2 separate regions of the Homo sapiens genome follow, and region 1 is linked to region 2. The links come from fine-mapping of genetic effects on plasma protein levels. A gene starts in region 2. The other region holds a variant in brackets. All regions are shown on one strand. Distances are between the middles of the regions. Region 1 has its middle 12 kb from the start of NECTIN2. Region 2 holds the start of BCAM (basal cell adhesion molecule (Lutheran blood group)).

The links. PIP is the chance, under the fine-mapping model, that this variant and not a neighbour inherited with it causes the effect. Protein levels are from the aptamer-based SomaScan assay of Sun 2018.
Region 1: its variant is fine-mapped to the plasma level of the BCAM protein (Sun 2018, PIP 0.95).

The regions. Positions count from the first base shown.
Region 1 is chr19:44,826,121-44,842,056 of GRCh38, forward strand. No RefSeq gene overlaps it. Among named protein-coding and RNA genes, the nearest start is that of NECTIN2, 12 kb to the right of the region's middle. The variant A/G (reference allele first, on the strand shown) is at 6,619.
Region 2 is chr19:44,801,758-44,812,499 of GRCh38, forward strand. It overlaps BCAM (basal cell adhesion molecule (Lutheran blood group)), which reads left to right and starts at 7,346. Exons shown (of 15, transcript NM_005581.5): 1 at 7,346-7,449; 2 at 9,468-9,589; 3 at 10,406-10,634; 4 at 10,721-10,742. The coding sequence starts at 7,368. RefSeq lists an enhancer at 10,520-10,742.

The sequences.
Region 1 (15,936 bases), 27 kb after region 2:
GCAGGAGGATTGCTTGAGGCCAGGATTTTGAGACCAGCCTGGACAACATAATGAGACCCTGTCTCTAAAAAAGAAATAGAGAGAAGGAAGAGAGGCAGGGAGGGAGGGAGGAAGGACTGGGAGGAAGTATAGAGCTGGAAACTGTGTCAAGGATAACTAAGTCCAGATTTTGGCATGAGAAAGTTAAACATATTCAGAATGGATGCTAAGACAATATAGAATTATACAAATTCACCACAATGGCATATTAATTTGTTTTCATTTGAATTTCCGTGACCTCTAGTGTGAAAATGGTGTTTCTCTGTATGTTCATTGGCCATTTGCTTTTCTTGTTTATGAACTGTGGTATACTCTTGCCTACTTTTCTCTTTTTTTTTTTACCTTTTCTTATTAATTTGCAGGATCTCTCTACACACCAGGAATATTAACCTCTAATCTTATAAAGCTTTTATCTCAGGCTGGGTGCCGTGACTCACGCCTGTAATCCTACCACTTTGGGAGGACGAGGTGGGTGAATCACTTGAGTCCAGGAGTTCAAGACCAGCCTGGCCAACATAGCGAAACCCTGTCTCTACTAAAAATACAAAAAAATAGCCAGGCAGGGGGTAGCCAGGCATGCCTGTAATCCCAGCACTTTGAGAGACCAAAGCAGACGGATCGCTTGAGCCCAGGAGTTCAAGACCAGCCTGACCAACATAGTGAAACCCTGTCTCTACTAAAAATACAAAAAATTAGCCGGGCATGGTGGCGCATGCCTGTGATCCCAGCTACTCAGGAGGCTGAGGCAGCAGGGTTGATTGAGCCTGGGAGTTCGAGGCTGCAGTGAGTCTTGATTGCACCACTGCACTCCAGTCTGTGTGACAGAGTGAGACCCTGTCTTTACATAGATATAGACAGATGATGATAGATAGATGATAGATAGATAGATAGATAGATAGATAGATAGATAGATAGATGATAGATAGATAGATAGACAGATAGATGATAGATAGACAGACAGATATCCACATAGATACCTCAAACCTATTATGTCCCAAATCGACCTCCAGTCTTTCCTCTCGCATAAATGGTATCCCTGCCCTCCAGCTGGGTGAGCCCAAAACTTAGAATTTATCCTGGATTCCTCCATTTCCTTTACCTCCCACTCACATAACCCAAAGGCACATCCCATGGGTCCCCTCCCATACAGCTCTCTTTCCTGACCACTTATCCCCCGGCTTCCCATATTCAATAAACCTTTTAACTCTATACCCTGCCACAGGGCATAGAGCTGCAGCTAGCTCTTTCTACAAATGGTTTCACGGCCATCAGTCCAAACATACATCTTCTTTCACCTGGATCAATGCACTTATAAAAGCAAATGCTCAACAGCAATCTTTGATGGCTCTAATACTCACATCAATTAAAAATTTAAACGTTACCTTTCAGTCACCCTTCCCATCCTTTTAAAGTGGAATTCCTAAATCTAAAATGGTAAAAGTTAAAAAAAAAATAAAACACCAAGCTCATATGGCTCTATAAAATACAGAATAACTTTAAAATGTATCTTATAGGCGGGGCTGGGCATGGTAGCTCACGCCTGTAATCCCAGCACTTTGGGAGGCTGAGGCGGGCGGATCACAAGATCAGGAGATTGAGACCATCCTGGCTAACACGGTGAAACTCCGTCTCTACTAAAAATACAAAAAATTAGCCGGGCGTGGTGGCGGGCGCCTGTAGTCCCAGATACTCGGGAGGCTGAGGCAGGAGAATGGCGTGAACCCAGGAGGCGGAGCTTGCAGTGAGCTGAGATCATGCCACTGCACTCCAGCCTGGGCGACAGAGCGAGACTCCATCTCACAAAAAAAAAAAGAAATTATCTTATAGGCAATACTTTCACTTGTCAATTCTCTTTATTTATTTATTTATTTTTTGAGACGGAGTCTCGCTCTGTCGCCAGGCTGGAGTGCAGTGGCGAGATCTCGGCTCACTGCAACCTCCACCTCCCGGGTTCAAGCGATTCTCCTGCCTCAGCCTCCTGAGTTACTGGGACTACAGGCACATGCCATCACGCCCAGCTAATTTTTTTATTTTTAGTAGAGACGGGGTTCCACCATGTTGGCCGGAATTGTCTCAAACTCCCGAGCTCAGGTGATTGGCCCACCTCGGCCACCCAAAGTGCCGGGATTACAGGTGTGAGCCACTGCGCCCGGCCAATTTTTTTTTTTTTTTTTTTTTTTTTTTTTTTTTTTTTTGAGATGGAGTCTTGCTCTGTCGCCCAGGCCGGAGTGCAGTGGCGCAATCTTGGCTCACTGCAACCTCCACCTCCCGGGTTCAAGCGATTCTCCTGCCTCAGCCTCCAGAGTAGCTAGATTACTGGCGCATGCCACCATGCCCAGTTAATTTTAGTAGAGACAGAGTTTCACCGTGTTAGCCAGGATGATCTTGATGTCCTGACCTCATGATCTGCCCACCTCAGCCTCCCAAAGTGCTGGGATTACAGGCGTGAGCCACCATGCCGGGCCAATTTTTTTTTTTAAGATGTAGTCTTGTTCTGTTGCCCAGGCTGACCCATTGCTCTCATGTATGTTTGTTTGTTTGTTTGTTTTTGAGACAGGACCTGGCTCTGTCGCCGAGGCTAGAGTACAATGGTGCAATCATGACTTACTGCAGCCTCGACCTTGGGCTCAAGTGATCCTCCCACCTCAGATTCCCCAGTAGCTGGGACTACAGGTGCATTGCCCTCAGGCCCAGCTAATTTTTGTATTTTTTGTAGAGATGGGATTTCACTAAGTTGGCAAGGCTGGTCTCAAACTCCTGACCTCAGGTGATCTGCCCGCCTCAGCCTCCCAAAGTGCTGGGATTATGGACATGAGCCACCATGCCCTGCCTATAACTGCTTTTAAACATAATTTTATACTTTTCCAGGAGCGTCCTAATGCATACGTGTACTGCGTATTCTCGAAATTTATGCTTTTTTAAAACATAAACCAGGCCTGGCACGGTGGCTCATGCCTGTAATCCCAGCACTTTGGGAGGCCGAGGCAGGTGGATGATCTGAGGTCAGGAGTTTGAGACCAGCCTGGCTAACATGGTGAAACCCCGTTTCTACTAAAAATACAAAAAATTACCCAGGTGTGGTGGTGCGCACCTATAATCCCAGCTACTTGGGAGGCTGAGGCAGGAGAATCGCTTGAACCCAGGGGGCAGAAGTTGCGGTGAGCAGAGATCGCACCATTGTACTCTGGCTTGGGCAACAAGAGTGAAACTCCGTCTCAAAAATAAATAAATAAATAAATAAATAAATAAATAGCAGATTAGAAACCCGTCTGTGACTCAGGTTTTCTCATTTCTCTTAGAATAAAATTCAAACTCCTACAAAAGGCTGCGTGCATAGTGCCTCTCTCTCTGCCATCCCTAGCTTCACTTTCCTTGCCTGCATCCTATCAGACAGTCTGTCTCTCCAGCCCTTGAATATTTTGTTTCTTTCCTACCTCTTTTTTTCTTTTTTTGAGACAGGGTCTCGCTCTGTCACCCAGGCTGGAGTGCAGTGGTGTGATCATAGCTCACTGCAGCCTCAAACCCTGGGGCTCAAGCAGGTCCTCCCACCTCGGCCTCCTCAGTAGCTGCAACTACAGGCATGCACCACCACAGCTGGCTAATTAAAAAAAAAAAAAAAAACTTTTACAGATGGGGTTTCTCTGTGTTGACTAGTCTGGTCTTGAACTCCTGGCTTCAAGAGATCCTCCTGCCTCAGCCTCCCAAAGCTCTGGGATTACAGGCATGACCCATCACACCTGACCAGGACTCTCAAACTTACCCTTCATTTGTCCTGAAATCTTTCACTACAGATCCTCACGTAATTCATTCATTCTCATACTGCAGATTTTGGCTCAAAATAGCACCTAGCCAGAAATGTCTTTCAGACTCTCTTATTTTAAGGAGCTCTTGCCCCAAACCCACCCAAGTTACTTCCATCATCCTAAGTATTAATACTTTTGCTTGATTTTGTTCTTTTCTAGTTTCTGGGTTCTATGCATAGACCATTTTTACTAATATTCATATTTTCTTTTAAATACCTTAGAAAGATATTTTAGATTTCTTCATTTGAGCCATGCACATTCTTTGAAAATTTATCCTAAAATAGCTGGGCACCCAGCCCATCCCTTGAACCCAGGAGGTGGAAGTGGTAGTGAGCTGCGATTGTGTCGCTGAACTCCAGCCTGGGACACCGAGTGAGACTCCATCTCAAAAACAAACAAACAAACAAAAAAATGTTGGGCACAGTAGTTCATGCCTAGTCCCAGCTACTCAGGAGGCTGAGGCACGAGGATCACTTGAGGCCAGGAGTTTGAGATCAGCCTGGGCAACACAGCAAGACCTCACTCTAAAAAAAAATGTTAATGCTAACATATAACTTTGGTTCTGTTTGTGATTGGCATATGGTTTATATTATACTTTTTTTTTTTATTTGAGATGGAGTCTCACCCTGTCGCCCAGGCTGGAGTGCAGTGGTGTGATCTTGGCTCACTGCAACCTCCATCTACCATGTTCAAGCGATTCTCCTGCCTCAGCCTCCAGAGTAGCTGGGATTACAGGCATACACCACCACACCCAGCTAATTTTTGTATTTTTTTTAGTAGAGACAGGGTTTCACCATGTTGATCAGGCTGGTCTCAAACTCCTGACCTCGTGATCCGCCCGCCTTGGCCTCCCAAAGTCCTAGGATTACAGGAGTGAGCCACCGCGCCCAGCAAAAAGTTTTTTAACTAGCTGAGTATAGTGGCACGAGCCTGTAGTGCCAGCTACTCAGGAGGCTGTGGCGGGAAGAGGGAGGCTGCAGTGAGATATGATCGCACCACTGTACTCCAACCTAGGTGACAGCAAGAACTTGTCTCAAAAAAAACAAATAACTTCGGCCGGGCAAGGTGGCTCACACCTGTAATCCCAGCACTTTGGGAGGCAGAGTCGGGTGGATCCCCTGAGACCAGCAGTTCAAGACCAGCCTGACCAACACTGTGAAACCCCGTCTCTACTAAAAATACAAACAATTAGCCAGGCGTGGTGGCCGGTGCCTGTAACCTCAGTTACTCGGGAGACTGTGACAGAAAGATGAAGGCTGCAGAGAGCTGTGATCGCACCCCTGTACTCCAACCTAGATGACAGCAAGAACCTGTCTCAAAAAAATAGACAAATACATAAAATAAAATCGGAGTGAAGCTACCAATGTAATGTTGAGTGAGTGATATGTTTCAGAAAATACTTTCTAGATCCTTGATGTTTAATACGGTATCCCTAGTCATATGTGGCTATAGAAACGTAAACTACTTAAAACTAAATAAAATGTAGAATCTCATTCTTCAGTGACAATAGCCACAGTTCTACTGCTCAACAGACAATTGTGGCTTGTGGTTACTATATTGGACAGCACAGATATAAAACATTTCCATCAATATAGAAATTTCTTTTTTATTCTTTTTTTTTTTTTTTTTTTTTTTGAGACGGAGTCTTGCTCTGTCACCCAGGCTGGAGTGCAGTGGGGCGATCTCGGCTCACTGCAAGCTTCACCTCCCAGGTTCACGCCATTCTTCTGCCTCAGCCTCCCGAGTAGCTAGGACTACAGGCGCCCGCACCACGCCCAGCTAATTTTTTGTATTTTTAGTAGAGACGGGGTTTCACCATGTTAGCCAGGATGGTCTCGATCTCCTGACCTCGTGATCCGCCCGCCTCAGCCTCCCAAAGTGCTGGGATTAGAGGTGTGAGCCACCGCGCCCGGCCCCCAGTACAGAAATTTCTACAGGGTAATGCAGATCTAGAATATGATCCCATTTTAAAATAAAGTCCATGGCCAGGCATGTTGGCTGATGCCTGTAATCCCAGCACTTTGGGAGGCCAATGCAGGTGGATCACCTGAGGTTAGGAGTTCGAGACAAGCCTGGCCAACATGGTGAAACCCCGTCTCTACTAAATCTACAAAAGTTAGCTTGGCATGGTGTCGGGCACCTGTAGTCCCAGCTACTCAGGAGGCTGAGGTGGGAGAATCACTTGAACCCAGGAGGCAGAGGTTGCAGTGAGCTGAGATCGCACCATTGCACTCCAGCCTGGGCAACAAGAGCAAAACTCTGTCTCAATAAATAAATAAATAAAATAAAATAAAGTACGTATGTCACATGTGCGTTTACATGTGTATATATAAATATATTTAACAGGTTTTTAATCTGTTATGTGAATTTTTTAAATTTTTTCATACAGTGTCACTTTATTAAGTGGGTAGAAAATGTTAAATTTTTCTTTGAAACAAGGTTTCTTTTTTGGGGGGATGGGGGGATGGAGTCTCGCTCTGTCGCCCAGGCTGGAGTGCAGCGGTACGATCTCAGCTCACTGCAACCTCTGCCTCTTGGGTTCAAGTGATTCTCCTGCCTCAGCCTCCCAAGTAGCTAGGACTACAGGCGCCCGCCACCACGCCCAGCTAACTTTTGTATTTTTAGTAGAGACGGGGTTTCACCATGTTCACCAGGCTGGTCTTGAACTCCTGACCTCAGGTTATCCTCCTGCCTCAATCTGCCAAAGTGCTGAGATTATAGGCGTGAGCCACCACACCTGAGACACGGTTTCTTAAAACAAAAGAAAAAAAGAGAC[A/G]GGGTTTCACTCTGTCACCCAGGCTGGAGTAAAGTAGCATAATCACGGTTCACTGTAGCCTCAACATCCCAGGGCTCAGGTGATCCTCCCATCTCAGCCTCCTGAGTAGCTGGGATTACAGGAGCATGCCACCACACCTGGCTAATTTTTGTACTTTTTGTAGAGATAGGGTTTCACCATGTTGCCCAGGCTGGTCTTGAACTCCTGGGCTCAGGCAATGCGACTGCCTCGGCCTCCTCCCAAAGTGCTAGGATTACAGGCATGAGTCACCACACCTGGCATAAATTATTAAATATTTAAAATTGCCAAGTTCCTTGGAGAAACTCTATTTGACTACATTGTTTATTTTTTTTAATATGCTGCTTCATAACATCTATTTATTTAAAAATTTCTTAACATATGATGCAGCAACTCCCCTTCTGGGTATATATCAGAAAGAATTGGGTCGGGCGTGGTGGCTCACGCCTGTAATCCAAGCACTTTGGGAGGCTAAGGCAGGAGGATCACCTGAGGTCAGGAGTTCGAGACCAGCCTTGCCAACATGGTGAAACCCCATCTCTACTAAAAATACAAAAATTAGCCAGGTGTAGTGGCACACGCCTGTAATCCCAGCTACTAGAGAGGCTGAGGCAGTAGAATCACTTGAACCCAGGAGGCGGCGGTTGCAGTGAGCCAAGATCACGCCATTGCACTCCAGCCTGGGGGATAGAGCCAGACTCTGTCTCAAAAAGAAGAAAGAAAAGGAAGGAGGGAGGGAGGGGGGGAAGGAAAGGAGGAAGGGAGAGAGGGAGGGAGGAGGAAGGAAAGGAGGAAGGCAGGAAGGGAGGAAGGGAGGGAGGAAGGAGGAAGAAAAGGAGGAAGGGAAGGAAGGGAATTAGAGGCGTGAGCCACAGCGCCCAGCTTACATTATACTTTCTAACCTACTAATGGCATCAAATAAATAGGAACCGGTATTTGAGAAGCACATATTATAATTGGAGGCTGCAGTGGCTCATGCCTGTAATCCCGGCACTTTGGGAGACAGAGGTGGGCAGATCGCCTGAGCCCAGGAGTTCAAGACCAGCCAGGGCAATGTGGCAAAACCCCATCTCTACAAAAAATCCAAAAGAATTAGCCAGGTGTGGTGGTATGAGCCTGTAGTCCCAGCTACTCCGGAGGGTGAGATGGGAGGATCACCTAGTCACAGGAAGGTGGAGACTGCAGTGAGCCGTGATCTGGCCAGTGCACTCCAGCCTGAGCCACAGAGGGAAGGACGGAAGGGAAGGAAAAGGGAACAGTGACAAACAGAGACCAGAAACACAGAGGGATGCTGAAGCATAAGGAACGAAAGACCCAGAGATACAGAAATTTAGGAACACGAAGAGACCCAAAGATAGTGACAGAAACAGAGAGACAGAGGAAAGTCTAGAAAGAAACAATGCAGTGACACCCAGCACCTTCATGTATTTATTTATTTACTTATTTATTTATTCATTCATTCATTTATTTATTTTTTGAGTTGGAGTCTTGCTCTGTTGCCCAGGCTGGAGTGCAATGGCACGATCTCAGCTCACTGCAACCTCCACCTCCTGGATTCTCCTGTCTCAGCCTCCTGAGTAGCTGGGATTACAGGTGTGCACCACCATGCTTGGCTAATTTTTGTATTTTTAGTAGAGACAAGGTTTCACCATGTTGGCCAGGCTGGTGTCAAACTCCCGACCCCAGGTGATCTGCCCACCTCGGCCTCCCAAAGTGCTGGGATCACAGGCATGAGCCACCTCGCCCAGCCTTATTTATTTATTTAGAGACAAGGTCTCGCTCTGTCATCCAGGCTGTAGTGCAGTGGTGCAATCACTGCTCACTGCAACCTTAACCTCCCAGGGCTAAGTAGTCCTTCTGCCTCAGCCTCCCGAGTAGCTGGGACCACAGGCATGTGCCACCACGCCAGGCTAATTTTTTATTTTTGTAGAGATGGGATCTCACTATGTTTCCCAGGCTGGTCTTGAATTCCTGAGCTCAAGCCATCCTTCTGCCTTGGCCTCCCAAAGTGTTAGGATTACAGGCATGAGACACCACGCCCGACCTCCCACATCTCTCTTTTTTTTTTTTTTTTTTTTTGAGACGGAGTCTCACTCTGTCGCCCAGGCTGGAGTGCAGTGGGGCGATCTCGGCTCACTGCAAGCTCTGCCTCCCGGGTTCACGCTATTCTCCTGCCTCAGCCTCCCAAGTAGCTGGGACTACAGGCACCCGTCACCACGCCTGGCTAATTTTTTATATTTTTAGTAGAGACGGAGTTTCACCGTGTCAGCCAGGATGGTCTCGATCTCCTCACCTTGTGATCCACCCGCCTCGGCCTCCCAAAGTGCTGGGATTACAGGTGTAAGCCACCGCGCCCGGCCTCCCACATCTCTTTAATTTTATATATTTATATGTACATATATACACGCATATATATTTATATATGTATAAATAAATACATACATATATATGTGTATATACACGCGCACACACACACACATATATATAGAAGCTTTTACTTTAAAGCTTTGATTATTGCTAAGTTTATTTTCATTGTCTCAAGATCTGTTTAACCCTGGAGCCAGACTGGGTCAGTGGGTCTGTGTGGTGCCTCATGTACCTGTCTCTGCCCCTTGAAGTTCTGTTTACCACCTCCAAGAGGCATAGCCTGCAGTCTCAGCAAAAGGATAGATTCCCAGGAAGAGTGCGAGAGAGGTTTGGGGCCCAGGTGGGCAGCCCACCCAGCTGACCCCACCAGGTGGGCATGATATCATGATATCAAATATGCTAAATTTGTGTCTGTGTACATCATGTTCTGGCCCCAGGGAAATGAGCACTTTGCTGGTGAGGTTGGTGACATTTTGTTTACCATCTATGCCTGAGGAGGAAAGACTGGAGGAAAGAAAGACCTAAGAGGCCAGTTTATATTCACAAACATGGAAGTCAAGCCTGTTCCACCTTTCCAATGCAATAGAGCACCTACTGGGAAAGCCATGCCTGGCCAGCCCCTGGCAAAACACACCTGAGGATTCATTCCTCCATTCACGCAATCATACCTTCAAGAAAAGTTCAGAGGGCGTGGTGGCTCGCGCCTGTAATCCCAACAGTTTGGGAAGCCAAGGCTGGCTGATCACCTGAGGTCAAGAGTTCGAGACCAGCCTGGCTAACATGGTGAAACCCCATCTCTACTAAAAATACAAAAATTAGCCTGGCATTGTGGTGCATGCCTGTAGTCACAGCTACTCGGGAGGCTGAGGCAGGAGAATCACTTGAAACTTGGAGGCGGAGGTTGCAGTGAGCTGAGATCGAGTCACTACACTCCAGCCTGGGTAACAGAGCGAGACTCCGTCTCAAAAAAATAAAAAGTGTATTGAGTGTTTACTGTGTGCCAGGCACTGGGGAGACATCAATGAACAAACTTCACAACCCACCAGGCACAGTGGCTCACGCCTGTAATCCCAGCACTTTGGGAGCTCAAGGCGGGAAAATCACTTGAGGTCAGGAATTCAAGACCAGCCTGGGCAACACAGCAAGATCCCATCTCTACAAAAAAATTTTTAAATTAGCCAAACATGGTGGCACACACCTGCAGTCCCCACTACTCAGAGTGGGAGGATCGCTCAAGTCCAGAAAGTCAAAGCTGCAGCGAGCTATGATGGCATTACTGTACTCCAGGCTGGGAGACAGAGCAAGATCCTGTCTCCAAGACATAATAATAATAATAATAATTCACATCCTAATGGTGTTGCTGGACTCCAGTGGGGAAAGTGGTCAGTGGAATTCCTTAGAAGGTCCACAGACCTAGGAAGAGACTTCAGGAACTGCAACCAATCCCTGACTCTCTAGGGCCTGAGGAGGCACTTGGATGGGAACACCCTCCACCTCCCAAGAGAAGCAGTTGACTCCTCCACGAGGAAGCACTGGACAGCCAGGAGGTGCCTCTTGTTAACCAAAGTGGGCTGTTGACCTTGAACTCCAGCTCAGAGATCTTGTCCCTGGTCTTGTTCTCAAGACTCATCAGGTTCTCTCTTTCTCTGGACATGGAATCTAGATCTTCAATTTTGAAGCCAAATCTATGGGAGTAAAACAAAGAGATTTGATTAAAACAAAAGATGTTGTGCAAAACTCAAAAAATAAAACAGGCTGGGCGCTGTGGCTCAGGCCTGTAATCCCAGCACTTTGGAAGGCCAAGGCAGGAGGATCACTTGAGCCCAGGAGTTCGAGACCAGCCCTGGCAACAAACAGAGACTCTGTCTCTACAAAAAATGCAAAAATTAGCCTGATGTGGCGGTACACGCCTGTAGTCCCAGCTACTCGGGAGGCTGAGGTAGGGGGATCCCTTGAGCCTGGGAGGCTGAGGCTGCAGTGAGCCGTGATCCAGCCACTGCATTCCAGCCAGGGCAACAGAGCGAGATCCTGTCTCAAAAAATAAAATAACAGTAGTCCCAGCACTTTGGGAGGTCGAGGCAAGCAGATCACTTGAGGTCAGGAGTTCTCAACCAGCCTGGCCAACATGGTGAAACCCCATCTCTACTAAAAATACAAAAATTAGCCAGGGGTAGGGGGGCACACCTGTAATGCTAGCTACTGGGGATGCTGAGGCATGAGAATCACTTGAACCCGGGAGGCGGAGTTTGCAGTGAGCCAAGATCACGCCACTGCACTCCAGCCTGGGCAACAGGGCGAGACTCCGTCTCAAAACAACAACAAAAATAAACATGAGAAGCTAGATGACTGTAGCTGGCTGATCACCTGCTTGGCAGCCACAGCTTTTACCTGTGTCTTGGGCTTGGGACTCATGGAGCAGAGTGGGTGTCGCCCACAGGACGCATGAATGCTTGGAGCTTACTGGATCCCTGCATCCCTCCCATCTGTGTTCAGCTCACATTCTTAGTATGTCTAACAGGTCTCATGAGTTGCTTTTTTTTTTTTTTTGAGACGGAGTCTTGCTCAGTTGCCCAGGCTGGAGTGCAGTGGCGCGATCTCAGCTCACTGCAACCTCCGCCTCCCGGGTTCAACTGATTCTCCTGCCTCAGCCTTCCGAGTAGCTGGGATTACCGGCGGGTGCCACCACGCCTGGCTAATTTTTTGTATTTTTAGTAGAGACAAGATTTCACCGTGTTCGCCAGGATGGTCTCGATCTCCTGACCTCATGATCCGCCTGCCTCAGCCTCCCAAAGTGCTGGGATTACAGGTGTGAGCCACCACGCCCGGCTTGAGTTGCTTCTTAATATCCATCCTTCATTTCACCTGTCTGTGTCCTTATTTATAGGGCTCTTGTTCCCTATATAACAGAATTGAAAATTCCCTTTAAAAAAATACAGCAAATGCACACAGAGGATCAGAGGATGGAGGGGAGAATTTGATGAGATAACCAGGGAAGTATTTAGTACAAAGCCTGGCACAGAGTCCATGTGCAGTACATGTTAATTATTGTGATTATCTAAGGAAAAATAAAGAGACACAGAGAAAAGCAAAAAGGTTGCCTTAGGCCAGGTGCGGTGGCTCACACCTGTAATCCCAGCACTTTGGGAGGCCGAGGCAGGCAGATCACCTGAAGTCATGAGTTCGAGACCAGCCTGGCCAACATGGTGAAACCTTGTCTCTACAAAAAAAAAAAGACAAAAATTAGCTGGGCATGGTGGCACGCGCCTGTAATCCCAGCTACTCAGGAGGCTGAGACACAAGGATCACTTGAACCCAGGAGGCGGAGGTGGCAGCGAGCCGAGATCACACCACTGCACTCCAGCCTGGGTGACAGGGCGACACTCTGTCTCAAAAAAAAAAAAATAAAGGCCAGGTGCGGTGGCTCACGCCTGTAATCCCAGAACTTTGGGAGGCCGAGGCAGGCAGATCACCTGAGGTGAGGGGTTCGAGACCAGCCTGGCAAACATGATTTAGTAGAAACCCCGTCTCTACTAAAAATACAAAAATTAGCTGGGCGTGGTGGCAGGCACCTGTAATCCCAGCTACTCGGGAGGCTCAGGCAGGAGAATCGCTTGAACCCGGGAGGCGGAGGTTGCAGTGAGCCGAGATCACACCATTGTACGCTAGCCTGGGGGGACAAGAGCGAGACTTCGTCTCAAAAATAAATAAATAAATAAACAAATAGGCTGGGCGCAGTGGCTCACGCCTGTAATCCCAACACTTTGGGAGGCCAGGCGGGCGGATCACGAGGTCAGGAGATCGAGACCATCCTGGCTAACACGGTGAAACCCTGTCTCTACTAAAAATACAAAATATTAGCCAGCATGGTGGCAGACGCCTGTAGTCCCAGCTACTCGGGAGGCTGAGGCAGGAGAATGGCGTGAACCCGGGAGGCGGAGCTTGCAGTGAGCCGAGATCGCGCCACTGCACTCTAGCCTGGGCAACAGAGCGAGACTCCATCTCAAAAGTAAAATAAAATATAATAAAATAAAATAAATAAAATACAAACACTCCCTTAGTCCAGGGCAGGGACCAGATACAGAGATACCACTCTAAAGGCAGACATTGGTGTTGGGGTTTGGTGAGTTGGATGGCGAGTGAACAGATGGCTAGTGGGAAGGGAAAGAGAAGAGGAAAGGGTTCTCCATCCAGTACCTGGTCCCCAAGTTAATGAGTGGAGGATCCCAGCCTGCCCCACCAGGAGGGAATACATTTGCATAAGGTCCCTCATCTGCATGGCATCCCAGGGAATTTGCATAGAGATGGCAGCCTGGGGCCACATCAGTATGACCCCTCCTCCCAAGGGTTGAAACTCCAGCCTACATTACAAAGGCCTAGGGCAATAGGAAAGTGGGAGGGGTGAACCTCAGGATCTGGGGCTCCAGGAAGTAAAGAGAAGTTGGTAGTAAACTACCCTTGCTCTTTAACCTTCTGTGGTTCCCAGAGCATGAGCCGCCCTTCAGCTGGCATTCTGGACCTTCTAAGATACTGACCCTCACATCCCCTGCTCCCGCTGTCACCACCCTCCTACCTGGAATGCCCTTCCCCATATCCCGTGCTGTGACAAAGCTTGCCTATTCTTCAAAGCCTGGACATCCTGAAGAATTCTGAAAGCTTTCACCACCAGCCCCTCCTTGCCCTGCCCTTGGAAATTTACAAAGCTCTGTGCATCTCCCAGACATGTACAGATTTTTTGGGGTATATAGTTTATTAGTAAGGTTATATTTGATTGCAAATGACTATATATATATATATATATATATATATATATATATATATATATACACACACACACACACACACACACACACACACACATAGTCTCATACATATATATATATATATAGTCTATACATATATATATAGTCTCATATATATATATATGTATACCAGGAGTCATGTCTCATGCTTGTAATCCCAGCAGTTTGGGAGGCCAAGGCAGGAAAATTGCTTGAGCCTAGGAGTTCAAGACCAGCCTGAGCAACCTAGTGAGAGCCTGTCTCTACAAAAAAGTCAAAAGATGAGTCTGGCAGGCCGAGCACGGTGGCTCACGACTGTAATCCCAGCACTTTGGGAGGCAGAGGAGGGCAGACCACTTTAGGTCAGGAGTTCAAGACCAGCCTGGTAATATTGTGAAACCCCGTCTCTAATAAAACTGCGAACATAGCCAGGCGTCGTGGCCCAAACCTGTAGTCCCAGCTACTTGGGAGGCTGAGGCAGGAGAATCACTTGAACCCAGGGGGCAGAGGTTGCAGTGAGCCAAAATCACACCACTGCATTCCAGCCTGGGCAACAGACTGACACTCCGTATCAGAAAAAAAAAAAAAAAAAAAAAGATTGGCCGGGTGCGGTGGCTCACGCCTGTAATCCCAGCACTTTGGGAGTCCGAGGCGGGCAGATCACAAGGTCAGGAGATTGAGACCATCCTGGCTAACAAGGTGAAACCCCATCTCTACTAAAAATACAAGAAATTAGCTGGGCATGGTGGCGGGCGCCTGTAGTCCCAGCTACTCGGGAGGCTGAGGCAGGAGAACGGCGTGAACCCAGGAGGCAGAGCTTGCAGTGAGCCAAGATCGCTCCACTGCACTCCAGCCTGGGCAACAGAGCAAGACTCCGTTTCAAAAAAAAAAAAAAAGATTATTCTGGCACAGTGGCGAATGCCTATAGTCCCAGCCACTTGGGAGGCTGAAGTGGGAGGATTGCTTGAGCCTGAGAGGTGGAAGCTTCAATGAGCCATGATTGTACCACTGCACTCCAGTCTGGCCAACAGAGCATGACCCTGTCTCAGAATAAGAGCCGGGTATGGTGGCTCACGTTTGTGATTCCAGCACTCTGGGAGGCCGAGGCAGGCAAATTGCTTGAGCCCAAGAGTTCAAGACCAGCCTCGGCAACAACCCAAAAACCCATCTCTACAAAAAAATAGAAAAATTAGCCAAGCATAGTGGCACATGCCTGTAGTCCCAGCTACTCGGGAAGTTGACATGGAAGGATCCCGAGCCAGGGAGGTCATGGCTGCAGTGAGCCATGGTAATGTCACCACACTCCAGCCTGAGCGACAGAGTGAGACCCTGTCTTAATTAAAAAAAAAAAAAAAAGACTGAGGGGAGGAAGTGGTTAGGGGAGCTGCTGCTGCTGCTAAAAGAAAGGAAAGGTTGCCAGGCAGGTAAAATACTTGGCATCAGCTCCATAGCTCCGTCAGGAAGCCTTTGCCCCTACCTATGCCCCTACCTTCTAGTGGTTATGGCTCTTCAGTGAAGTGCCACCTCTGGGACTCCTTGACACTAAAAGTCAACTCCCCAGGCGGGCGTGGAACCCACCCAGTCATTTGTCACCAAACTTGGTGCTCAGCCTCATGCTTGTGACCCAAGGGTGTGAAACTCCAGCCTACACCTCTGGGGCATTTTTTTCTTTCTTTTTTTTTTTTTCCTTTTTTTTTTGGCAGAGCCTTGCTGTCACCCAGGCTGGAGTGCAGTGGCACAATCTTGGCTCACTGCAACCTCCACCTCCCGGGTTCAAGCGATTCTCCGGCTTCAGTCTCCCAAGTAGCTGGGATTATAGGCACCCGCCACCACATCCTGCTAATTTTTGTATTTTCAGTAGAGACAGGGTTTCACCACGTAGGCCAAGCTGGTCTCAAACTCCTGACCTCAGGTGATCCATCTGTCTCGGCCTCCCAAAGTACTGGGATTACAGGCTTGAGCCACCATGGCCAGCCTCCTGGGGCTTTCTTCCTGGGCTCATCCCTGCTCACAAAGAACAGCCAGGAGAGAGCTAAGCCCACTCATTCGTAGGCCAGGAGAAAGGAGGTGCTAGAGGCCTTCCTAGAAGAAGACTTCCTGGGGACTGGTTCTTTTGTTCAATGGATAAACGGGGGTCCCAGGATTTTGCAAAGCA
Region 2 (10,742 bases):
GCAGCCCCTCCTCCCTCAGACCCAGGAGTCCATACTGCAGCCCCTCCTTCCTCAGACCCAGTAGTCCATACTGCAGCCCCTCCTCCCTCAGACCCAGGAGTCCAGGCCCCAGCCCCTCCTCCCTCAGACCTAGGAGTCCAGGCCCCAGCCCCTCCTCCCTCAGACCCAGGAGTCCAGACCCCCAACCCCTTCTCCCTCAGACCCAGGAGTCCAGGCCCCAGCCCCTCCTCCCTCAGACCCAGGAGTCCAGACCCCCAACCCCTTCTCCCTCAGACCCAGGAGTCCAGGCCCCAGCCCCTCCTCCCTCAGACCCAGGAGTCCAGGTCCCCAGCCCCTCCACCCTCAGATCTTCAAATGGAATCTGGGGCCAGGCACGGTGGCGCACGCTTGTAATTCCAAGGCTTTGGGAGGCCAAGTGGGAAAGACTGAGCCTAGGAAGCTGAGGTTGCAGGGAGCTGTGATTGTGCCACAGCAATCCAGCCTGGGTGACAGACCGAGATCCTGTCTTAAAAAAAGAAAAAAAAAAAAAAGAAACTGGGCCCCCAGCCTTCTCTGTGATACCCAGGAGTCCTGCTCTCAGGATTTAGAAGTCCAGAATCCCAAGTTTTCTGAGAATCGGGCATCCAACCCTCCTGCTTCATCATGGCAAAAAAAATCCCTGGACCTAGACCCAGATATCCAGGTTAAGTCCCTGGTCAAAAGGACCACACATTTCCCTGATGGTTATCCACCTTGCCTTGCCACGGTCTGTGCTCATCCCTCTCTCTGTCCTTCATTCCTCTCTGACATCTTTCTCCCAGAGTAACTGCTAACTTCCAGTCTAAATCTTGCTGAGGAAGAAGAGATACCACCTCATGATTCATCTTGGAGTGGCCCAAGCCTCCCTCCACCTTGTTTAAATTGCCCCATTCCCGGAGACCTTGCCCTGTGCCCAGCGCTGGGCTGAGCAATGCTGACCAGGAAGCAGTGATCACTGCCCCACTAGGGCTCACCTTCCACTAGAGGAAAGAGACCTGTCCCTAGACAGTGATGACCCAGAGTGGGCATGGCTGGGGTAGGGAATCCCAGGGGGCTACAGGAACCCAGAGTGGGCACCTGACTCAGCCTGGGAGGTCAGGGAGTGCTTCCAGGAGGAGGCGATGTCTGAGCTGATACTTAAAAGATGATGAGGCCAGACGTGGTGGCTCATGCCTGTAATCCCAGCACTTTGGGAGACTGAGGCAGGCGGGATGCTTGAGCTCAGAAGTTTGAGAACAGCCTGAGCAACGTGATGAAACTCCATCTCCACAAAAAATTTTGGAAAAATTAGCCAGGCATGGTGGCACATGCCTGTAAGTCCTAGCTACTCAGGAGGCTGAGGTGGGAGGATGGCTTGAGCCTGGGAGGTCAAGGCTTCAGTGAGCCGAGATTGCACCACTGCACTCCAGCCTGGGCAACATGGCAAGACCCTGTCTCAAAAAAGAAAAGAAAATTTTTTAAATGATGAAAAAGTATTCCAATGGACAGGAGGCTTGAAAGAATGTATCAGGGCCGGGCGCAGTGGCTCACAGCTGTAATCCCAGCACTTTGGGAGGCCGAGGCAGGTGGATCATCTGAGGTCAGGAGTGAAACCCCGTCTATACTTTCACCCCAACATGGTGAAACCCCGTCTGTACTAAAAATACAAAAATTAGCCAGGCATGGTGGCGGGCACCTGTAATCCCAGCTACTCGGGAGACTGAGGCAAGAGAATCACTTCAACCCAGGAGATGGAGGTTGCAGTGAGCCGAGATTGTGCCATTGCACTCCAGCCTGGGCAACAAGAGCGAAACTCTGAAAAAAAAAAAAAAAAAAGGAAGGAAGGGAGGGAGAGAGAGGAAAAGGAAGGAGGGAAGGAAGGAAGGAGAGAAAGAAAAGAAAGGAAGGAAGAAAGAAAGAAAGAAAAGAAAGAAAGAGAATTTTCACAGATTTAGTTCCAAGCAACAGATGCTACCTCAGGGGCAGAAAGGGAATTTATTGAGAGGATTTGGGGTCACTCACAGAATCCCAGGAGTGAACTGGGGAATCAGGATTGGAAAGTGAGCAGGAAGAATCCTGGCAACTGGCCAGCAATGGTAACCCAGCCACAGTGACACCACGGAACCGGTCTGATGAGGCCATGCTGGCGATGGCCACTAGACACTGTAGTTGTCTCGCTGCCTCTGCTGCCCCAGAAATAGGATATGGCTGCTCTTCTCATTAGCTGTTGCTGGTAATAAATCACTTCACAACTTAGCCGCAAATGACAGCAATCATTGCATTAAGTCTCATGGTTGCTGTGGGCTGGGATTTGAAGAAAGGCGTGGCTGGTTTGTTTTGGCTCAGGATGCAAACAAACAGTGCAATCAGTGATGCTTGCCACAGGGCGGCTGGGGGTGCTGGACAAGTGGGCATCTCTCTGTGGTCTCAGGGCCTCCCCCACCATATAGTCTCTGCACTGGCCAGCTTGGGCTTCCCCACAGCATGGCTGCCTCAAGGTAGTCAAACTTTATATGGCCGCTGAAGACCCAGGCAGAAGCTGCATGGCCTTTTCTAGCTCATTTTGGGAGTTCCGCAACTTCACTTCAGCTGAATTCTGTTGGTTGTATGCAAGTCACCAAACTGCACAGATTTGAGAGGAGGGTGCCATAGACCCCAGCTCTTGATGGAAAGAGTATCAAGCTCTCATTGTGGAAACACACATGGGATGAAAGACACTGTCACAACATGGCAAAACCCCATTCCTACAAAAAAAAAAAAATTAACTAGGAGTGGTGGTGCACACCTGTACTCACAGCTACCCAGGAGGCTGAGGTGAGAGGATCACTTGAGCCCTGGAGGACGAGGCTGCAGTGAGCCATGATCATGCCATTGCACTCCAACCTGGGTGACAGAGCAAGACCCTGTCTCAAAAAGAAAAAAGAAAGAGATTGTTGTAGCCGTCTTTGGAAAACAGAATCTGTCCCAGCTGCCATGCATGGCTGGAAGAGGTGGCCAATTCCTGATATTCAAAAGTGTGGAAGGATTTGCCAAGCTTAAGTCACCTTAGCTCCAACAGATGCAGGAAAGCAAACATCCATTCTTGTTGGCTTCAAGAGTGGGCAACAGAGGCTTTCAGACAGTAGGAATTTCCTTAAATGTGGGAAGGAGCTGCAGATGCTAGGTAATCCTTCCCGCAAAATATGTACTATAGCCCGCTCCTTTGGTTTTTTTTGTTGTGTTTTGTTTTTTAGACAAGGTCTCACTCTTTCACCCAGGCTGGAGTGTAGTAGCACGATCTTGGCTCATTGCAGCCTTGATCTCCCCAGTTCAAGCGATCCTCCCACCTCAGCCTCCTGAGTAGCTGGGACTACGAGCACAAACCACCACCACCCCCGGTTAATATGTATTTTTTGTAGATACAGGGTTTTGCCATGTTGCCCAGGCTGGTCCCAAATTCCTGGGCTCAAGCGATCCACCTGCCTCAGCCTCCCAAAGTGCTGGGATTGTAGGTATGAGCCACCACAGCTGGCTTTGAATGTTCAATATCAATAGGCCCTTTGCAGAAGTTCTTATCGAAACTTTCCCCGCACAACCGTCTCTCATTGTACAATCAAAAAATGCATTCACACTGCCACCCAATACAAAAAATTTCAATAGTTCCATTTTCCAGATCTGAGACTGGAATCAGGGAAGAACCATTCCCCTCCAAATATGTCATTCTCCCCATATTCCACAAGCTGTGAGCTAGTTGTAAAGTTAATCGTCACACACTGTGTGAAAAATAATGGGAAAAAAGGTCAAGAAAAGATAAGTCAGCCAGGCACTGTGGCTTCCGCCTGTAATCCCAACATTTTGGGAGGCTGAGGCTGGTGGATCACCTGAGGTTAGGGGTTCGAAACCAGCCTGGCCAACATGGTGAAACCCTGTCTCTACTAAAAACACAAAATTAGCCGGGCATGGTGGCGCATGCCTGTAATCCCAGCTACTTGGGAGGCTGAGGCAGGAGAATTGCTTGAACCTGGGAGGCGGAGGTTGCAGTGAGCCAAGATCACGCCATTGCATTCCAGCCTGGGCAACAAGAGTGAAACTCTGTCTCAAAAACAATGAAAAGGTAAGTCTGGCCAACCGTGGTGGCCCACACCTATAATCCCAGCACTTTGGGAGGCTGAGGTAGGAGGATCGCTTGAGCCCAGAGTTTCAGAAAAGATAAGCCTTGTTAGTTAAAATATGTGAGGATATACACCTGCGGCCGCATGGATGGAATTAGAACTTTTTTTTTTTTTTTTTTTTTTTTTGATACTGAGTCTCGCTCTGTCACCCAGGCTGGGGTGCAATGGCATGATCTCAGCTCACTGCAACCTCCACCTCCTAGGTTCAAGCAATTCTCCTGCCTCAGCCTCCCGAGTAGCTGGGATTACAGGCACCTGCCACAACCCCTGGCTAATTTTTTTATTTTAAGTAGAGAGGGGGTTTCACCATTTTGGCCAGGCTGGTCTCAAACTCCTGACCTCGGGTGATCCACCCACCTCGGCCTCCCAAAGTGCTGGGATTGCAGGCATGGGCCACCATGACTGGCCATTTTTATATTTTTTTGTAGAGACGGGGTTTCGCTATGTTGCCCAGGCTGGTCTCAAACTCCCGGGCTCAAGCAGTCCTCCCGCCTCAGGCTCCTAAATTGCTGGGATTACAGACGTGAGTCCCTGCGGCTGACCTGGACCTCAGCTTTTACCCTAAGTGAGACAGAAGTCATGGGAGGACCCTGGGGCAGAAGAGTGACATGAGTTGATTCACATGTAAAAGGAATCCTTCAGGCTGTTTTGTGAGAATAAATTACAGGGGACAAAGGCAGATGATGTTACAAGACTAGTTTCTGCAAGTCTGCAAGGGTCCACGGCTGCTGTTTTGGTGTTTCTGACTTTTCTCCTTCATACACATGCCATAGAGTTCTCCTCCCTCACCCAGAACCTCAGATGGCTAGGTTCTTCTTTTTTTTTTTTTTTTTTTTGAGACAGAATTTCACTCTTGTTGCCCAGGCAACATCGTGCAGTGGCACGATCTCAGCTCAGTGCAACCTCCACCTCCCAGATTCAAGCGATTCTCCTGCCTTAGCCTCCTGAGTAGCTGAGATTACAGGCATGTGCCACCACGCCCAGCTAATTTTGTATTTTTAGTAGAGATGCGGTTTCACCATGTTGGTCAGGCTGGTCTCGAACTCCTGACCTCAGGTGATCCACCCACCTCGGCCTCCTAAAGTGCTGGGATTACAGGCATGAGCCACAGCGCCCAGCCTCAGCTGGCTGGGTTCTTGAGGGAGGTGGAAGTGGGCGATGGCTGCTGAGAGGGCATGTACCAGGGTCCAGCCCAAACAGAAGGTGCACAGGCTGGGGACAGAAGAGCTAGGGTATGGGTGTCGGTGCTCACAGTGTGTGAGCTTGACAGCACCTGGGACTGTCTTGGAGTGCCGCCGCATTCCCCATGAGTGAGTTTGTATTGTATATCCTGGGATGCTCCAGTCTGGATGGAATCTGCACGTGAGTTTGTGTGCCTTGCAAACAAACCTTCCCTGAGCACCTGCACTGTGTCTGGTCTTGTGCTGGGCGGGGTGCCCAGGGGAGGAGCCCTTAGCTCACCACAGTGATCAAGACATCCCTGGCCCTGCCCTCACAGGCTCACAGTCCACTGAGGGAGACAGACCTATCCCCAGCCAGGGACCCCCAGAGTGTGCCGGGCTCAGGTGGGGGAGCCCAGAGGGGGAACCTGACCCAGCCAGGGAAGGCAGAGGGGACTTCCTGGAGGAGGGGATGGTACAGTTAATCCTAAAAGGTCTTTCCCAATGTAACAGTTGCTCTGTAGGATGGATGCAGTGGCTCATGCCTGTAATCCCAGCACTTTGGAAGGCAGGAGGATCACTTGAGCCCAAGAGTTGGAGACCAGCCTGGGCAACATAGTAATACCCTGTTTCTATTACCAAAAAAATACAAAAATTAGCTGGACATGGTAACACAAGCCTATAGTCCCAGCTACTTGGGAGGCTGAAGTGGAAGGATTGCTTGAGCCCAGGCGGTTGAGGTTTGAATGAGCTATGATTGCGCCCACTGCATTCCCGGCTGGGCAACAGAGCGAGACCCTGTCAAAAACAAAACAAACAAACAAAAAAAACGTTGGTCTCCTGTATGACCAATGGATAAAGTAACCTTGACCAGTCTAATAACTCCCAGGCTGACCTGTAATCCAAGCCTTCTCTGTATGTCTGAGCAGGCAAAGCCCAGCTCCAGGGCTACCTCAACCCCCAGGCTGATCAGAAGCTTGGGTAACCTCTCCCAGTGTGGCCAGCGACCCCCCACCCTCCCACGTTCTGACCACTGTCCTGGGCAACTAGTGACATCTAGTGGGGGATTTTGTCCCAGTCTGACCTGGCCTGTAGGGGCCTTGGGCAGTCGGACCTGTGACCCACGCTTCCTAGCAGTGGCTGGACTCCTCCCCCTTCCCGCAGGTGCCCTGGCCTCTTCCCCTGCCCTCCTCACCTGCTCTGGCCAGTCTGACTCCTCCCTTCCCCACAAGGTTGGGAGGGAATGAAGGAGAGAGCGGGAAGGAGGAAGGGAGGGTGGCATTCCTGGGATTCCCTGGATAGGGGGAAGAGTGGGAGGGCCTTCCATGGGTGAGCAAGCAGAGAGGGCACCCCGTACCCCACCCCCAGCCCCATCATCGAAGCGGCCTAGGAGGACCTGGATTTGAAGACCATTGAAAATAAGAGATTAAACCGGTTGATTCCAGGCTACTGGTCAGACGAGGAAAGCAGCCCAGAGCACTGACCACAGGGGAAAACATCTCCGGGCATACTGGGAGCAGCTGCTGGGGGCCACTGGTCAGGCTGCGGGGGTCACTGGTTGGACTGGGAGAGGCCAGTGCAGGCCACTCGGACGGCACGCTTGGGGCCATTAGTTACACTGGGAGAGGCCATCGCAGGCCACAGGTTGCAGTGGGGTCCTCTGGTTAAAATCGACGATGCCAGCCCAGGCTGCTGGTCACAGTGGGGACGAGTCCCCAAGGCCCCTGGTCAGAATAACGAGGAGAAGGTCCGCGATTGCCTGGTGAGATCCCAGCTCGGGTCACTGGCTACGCTGGTCGATCAGGCCCCCCGCTGCAGGCGCTGGTCAGTAAGCCCGGACAGCTCTAGGCTTGGGGGCGGACGAGCCCCGAGCCTGGCCCCGTGCACTGGGAGGTCCGCTCCGGGCAGTGGGAGGTCCTGGCCCCGCGCCCGGGCATCGGGGGACGAGGGGGGCCTGGAGGGCGGGGCGGGGCGGGGCTGCCGGGGGCGGGGCCTCTGGCTCCCAGCCCCGCAGCGGCCGAGCTGCAGCCCGGGCTCAGTCTCCGCCGCCGCCGTGAACATGGAGCCCCCGGACGCACCGGCCCAGGCGCGCGGGGCCCCGCGGCTGCTGTTGCTCGCAGTCCTGCTGGCGGCGCACCCAGGTATGGCTCGGGCTGAGGGCAAGGTGGGACTGGGGAGAGGCCCCTGGGGACCCCGGGAAAGCGAGGAGAAAGGGCTTTACCCTGACCCCAGGAAGCAAAATGTGGGGACCCCAAGGAGGAGGGATATGGGAGTGTTGGAAGGTACGCCTTCCAGTGAGAGAGATCTGGGGACAGCCAGGCAGGAGAGCTGGGGATACCCAGGCGGTGGATCAGAGACAACCAGAGAAGTCAGCCCCCTTCCCACTCAGCACCCTGGAATCTGGGTCCCACCTGCCTCCTCCCTCAGACCCTGGAATCTGGGCCCCCAGCCCCTCTTTCCTCAGACCCAGGAGTCCAGGCCTCCAGTGGCTAGAATAGCTTCCCCCAGGGCACAGAGGATCAAAACCCCAGGGCTCTCTCCCTCAAAGGTCCTCAAGTTTTGAGAGGTCCAGGGACCCCTTAGAGAAGCGAGGACCATGTGTCCCCACACCAGCGATCCACATGTATTTAGGAGTTTCCAGAGTCCAGTATAAAGAACCCGCCTCCCTCAGGAAAGGGCTGGAGCACCAGCCCCGGGCAGTGACAGTGGAACAAAGTGTTTCCAAGTGACAGGCCCCCTTCCTGGGGCCTCAGCTACATTTACACACCTGCATGAGGATAGAAGGAGAGGAGGCCGGGGGCTGGGGGGTGGGGGTGGGGGTGCTGGGGACAGAGGGACAGAGAGATGAGAGAGATTGGGGAAGAGAGAGGAACTCTCTGCCTCCACTTGTCTGCAGATCAGACCCAGCCTTAGGCACCAGCCTGGACCCCGTCACCCCTCCCTGGGGACAGGCTGGGGCCAGAGGTGAGCGCTTGGGAATCCAGGCCCCTGGCACACTCATGGTCAACAGTGGGTCCCCAGGGGTAGGGCTGGGCCAGATTGAGCAGAGAAGGGAAGGGAGTTTCTAAGAAGCACTGAGAGCTGATGCCAGGATGCCAGCCCAGAGGGTGAGGGAGGGTGGTGGTTTTTCTACAATAACTACTCCACCAGGCCCCAGCCTCCTCTTCCCTCTGATCCCAGGAGTCCAGGTGCCCAGCTTCCCAAGATCCTGGGCCTCAACCTTATCCTTTTGCAAGATGACTCGACTTATCCCGTTTGCTGTTGTATCAAACTGAGGGGGGCCAAGAGGCGGCTGGGGGCTCTGGCTCCAGGCCGGGCAGGTCTCAGCCAGCCTGTCCCTCCCACATTCCTGAAACCTGCCCAGCCCTGTCCCCCCTCACCGCCCCCACACATCCATCCCGCCTAAGCTCCGGGCCCAGCCGCAGCCCACACCCCAGCCCCTCACTCATGGGAGAGCGGAAGAGACCCAGGGACTGAGTGGTGCAGGTGCAGAGAGAGGCAGAGACAGGGACAGAGATGGAGACCCAAGAGGAGAGACACACGCAAAGGTGGAGACCAGGATGGAGAGAAACATTTATCCATCATCACAGAGGTGGCCCTGCCCAGGGTGCTGGAGGCAAATGGCTGAGCCAGGCCTGGCCCTGCCCTGGGGGGTGGCGTGTGCTCTGTTGGGATAAGCAAAGGCTGGTGCAGTATTACCCCAGGAGTGTTCAGCGGAGGCCACAGGGCCCTGTGCAGCCCAGAGGAGGAGCCCTGAGCTCTGCAAGTGCAGGGAGAGATGGATTTGAGACCCAGAGATGCAGGGAGAAGGGATGGAGGGCGAAAGGATCTCAGGGAGGAGGGGCTGGGGCCTAGACTCCTGGGTCTGAGGGAGGAGGGGCTGGGGCCTGGACTCCTGGGTCTGAGGGAGGAGGGGCTGGGGCCTAGACTCCTGGGTCTGAGGGAGGAGGGGCTGGGGCCTAGACTCCTGAGTCTGAGGGAGGAGGGGACAGGGGCCCAGATTCCTGGGTCTGAGGGAGGAGGGGCTGGCACCTGGACTCCTGGGTCTGAGGGAGGAGGGGCTGGGACCTGGACGCTTGTGTCCTGGGGGAGAGGGGACCCTGTCTGGAGGGCTCTTCCTGTTGGTGTGGTGGATGATAGCTCAGTTGCTCTCTTGCAGATGCCCAGGCGGAGGTGCGCTTGTCTGTACCCCCGCTGGTGGAGGTGATGCGAGGAAAGTCTGTCATTCTGGACTGCACCCCTACGGGAACCCACGACCATTATATGCTGGAATGGTTCCTTGTGAGTGCTTGGGGCTGGGGGGCCTGGAGTCAGGGCACAGCAGGGCAGCAAAGGTTCATTCTCTCATCAGTGCCTAAGGCCTGTAGAGATCCACCAAGCCACACTCCTTGTTACAGATGGGGTCACTGAGTCCCACTGAGGGGAAGGGATCTGCAAGGTGCCCCGTGTCTAGGCACAGCCAAGTCTAGAATGACATTGACCTGCTCTGGACTGCGGGCTCTTGAGAGAGAGAACAGAGACAGACATCAAGAAAGCAGAAGCCAGGCACGGTGGCTCACGCCTGTAATCCCAGCACTTTGGGAGGCCGAGGCGGGTGGATCACGAGGTCAAGAGATCAAGACTGTCCTGACCAACATGGTGAAACCCCGTCTCTACTAAAAATACAAAAATTAGCTGGGCGTGATGGCATGTGCCTGTAATCCCAGCTACTCAGGAGGCTGAGGCAGGAGAATCGCTTGAACCTGGGAGGTAGAGGTTGCAGTGAGCCGAGATCGAGCCAATGCTCTCCAGCCAGGCGACAGAGCAAGACTCTATCTCAAAAAAAAAGAGGAAAGAAAATGAGAGACAATCGGGAGAGGGAGAGACCAAGAGGAGAAGGGATGGGACCGGAATGAGATGGAGAAAAGGAGACAGGAAAAATCAAGAACTGATAGGGAATGGGGGCAGGAGAAGGTGGGGAGGGACAGAGGGACCAGGGAGACCCATAACAAGAGGAAAAGAGGCAGAGCCAGGAGCTGCAGAGAGAAAGGACCCAGAGAGAGAGAGACTGAGGAGCGCTGGGACACCCGGAGCTGAGAGCCTGCCCCGCGCCCACAGACCGACCGCTCGGGAGCTCGCCCCCGCCTAGCCTCGGCTGAGATGCAGGGCTCTGAGCTCCAGGTCACAATGCACGACACCCGGGGCCGCAGTCCCCCATACCAGCTGGACTCCCAGGGGCGCCTGGTGCTGGCTGAGGCCCAGGTGGGCGACGAGCGAGACTACGTGTGCGTGGTGAGGGCAGGGGCGGCAGGCACTGCTGAGGCCACTGCGCGGCTCAACGTGTTTGGTAAGTGTCCTCGGGCATCCCCCGAAGGGAGGCAGGCAGGGAGGGGCGCAGGGCAGGGGCTCCTGACGTGAACGTCTTTTTCACAGCAAAGCCAGAGGCCACTGAGGT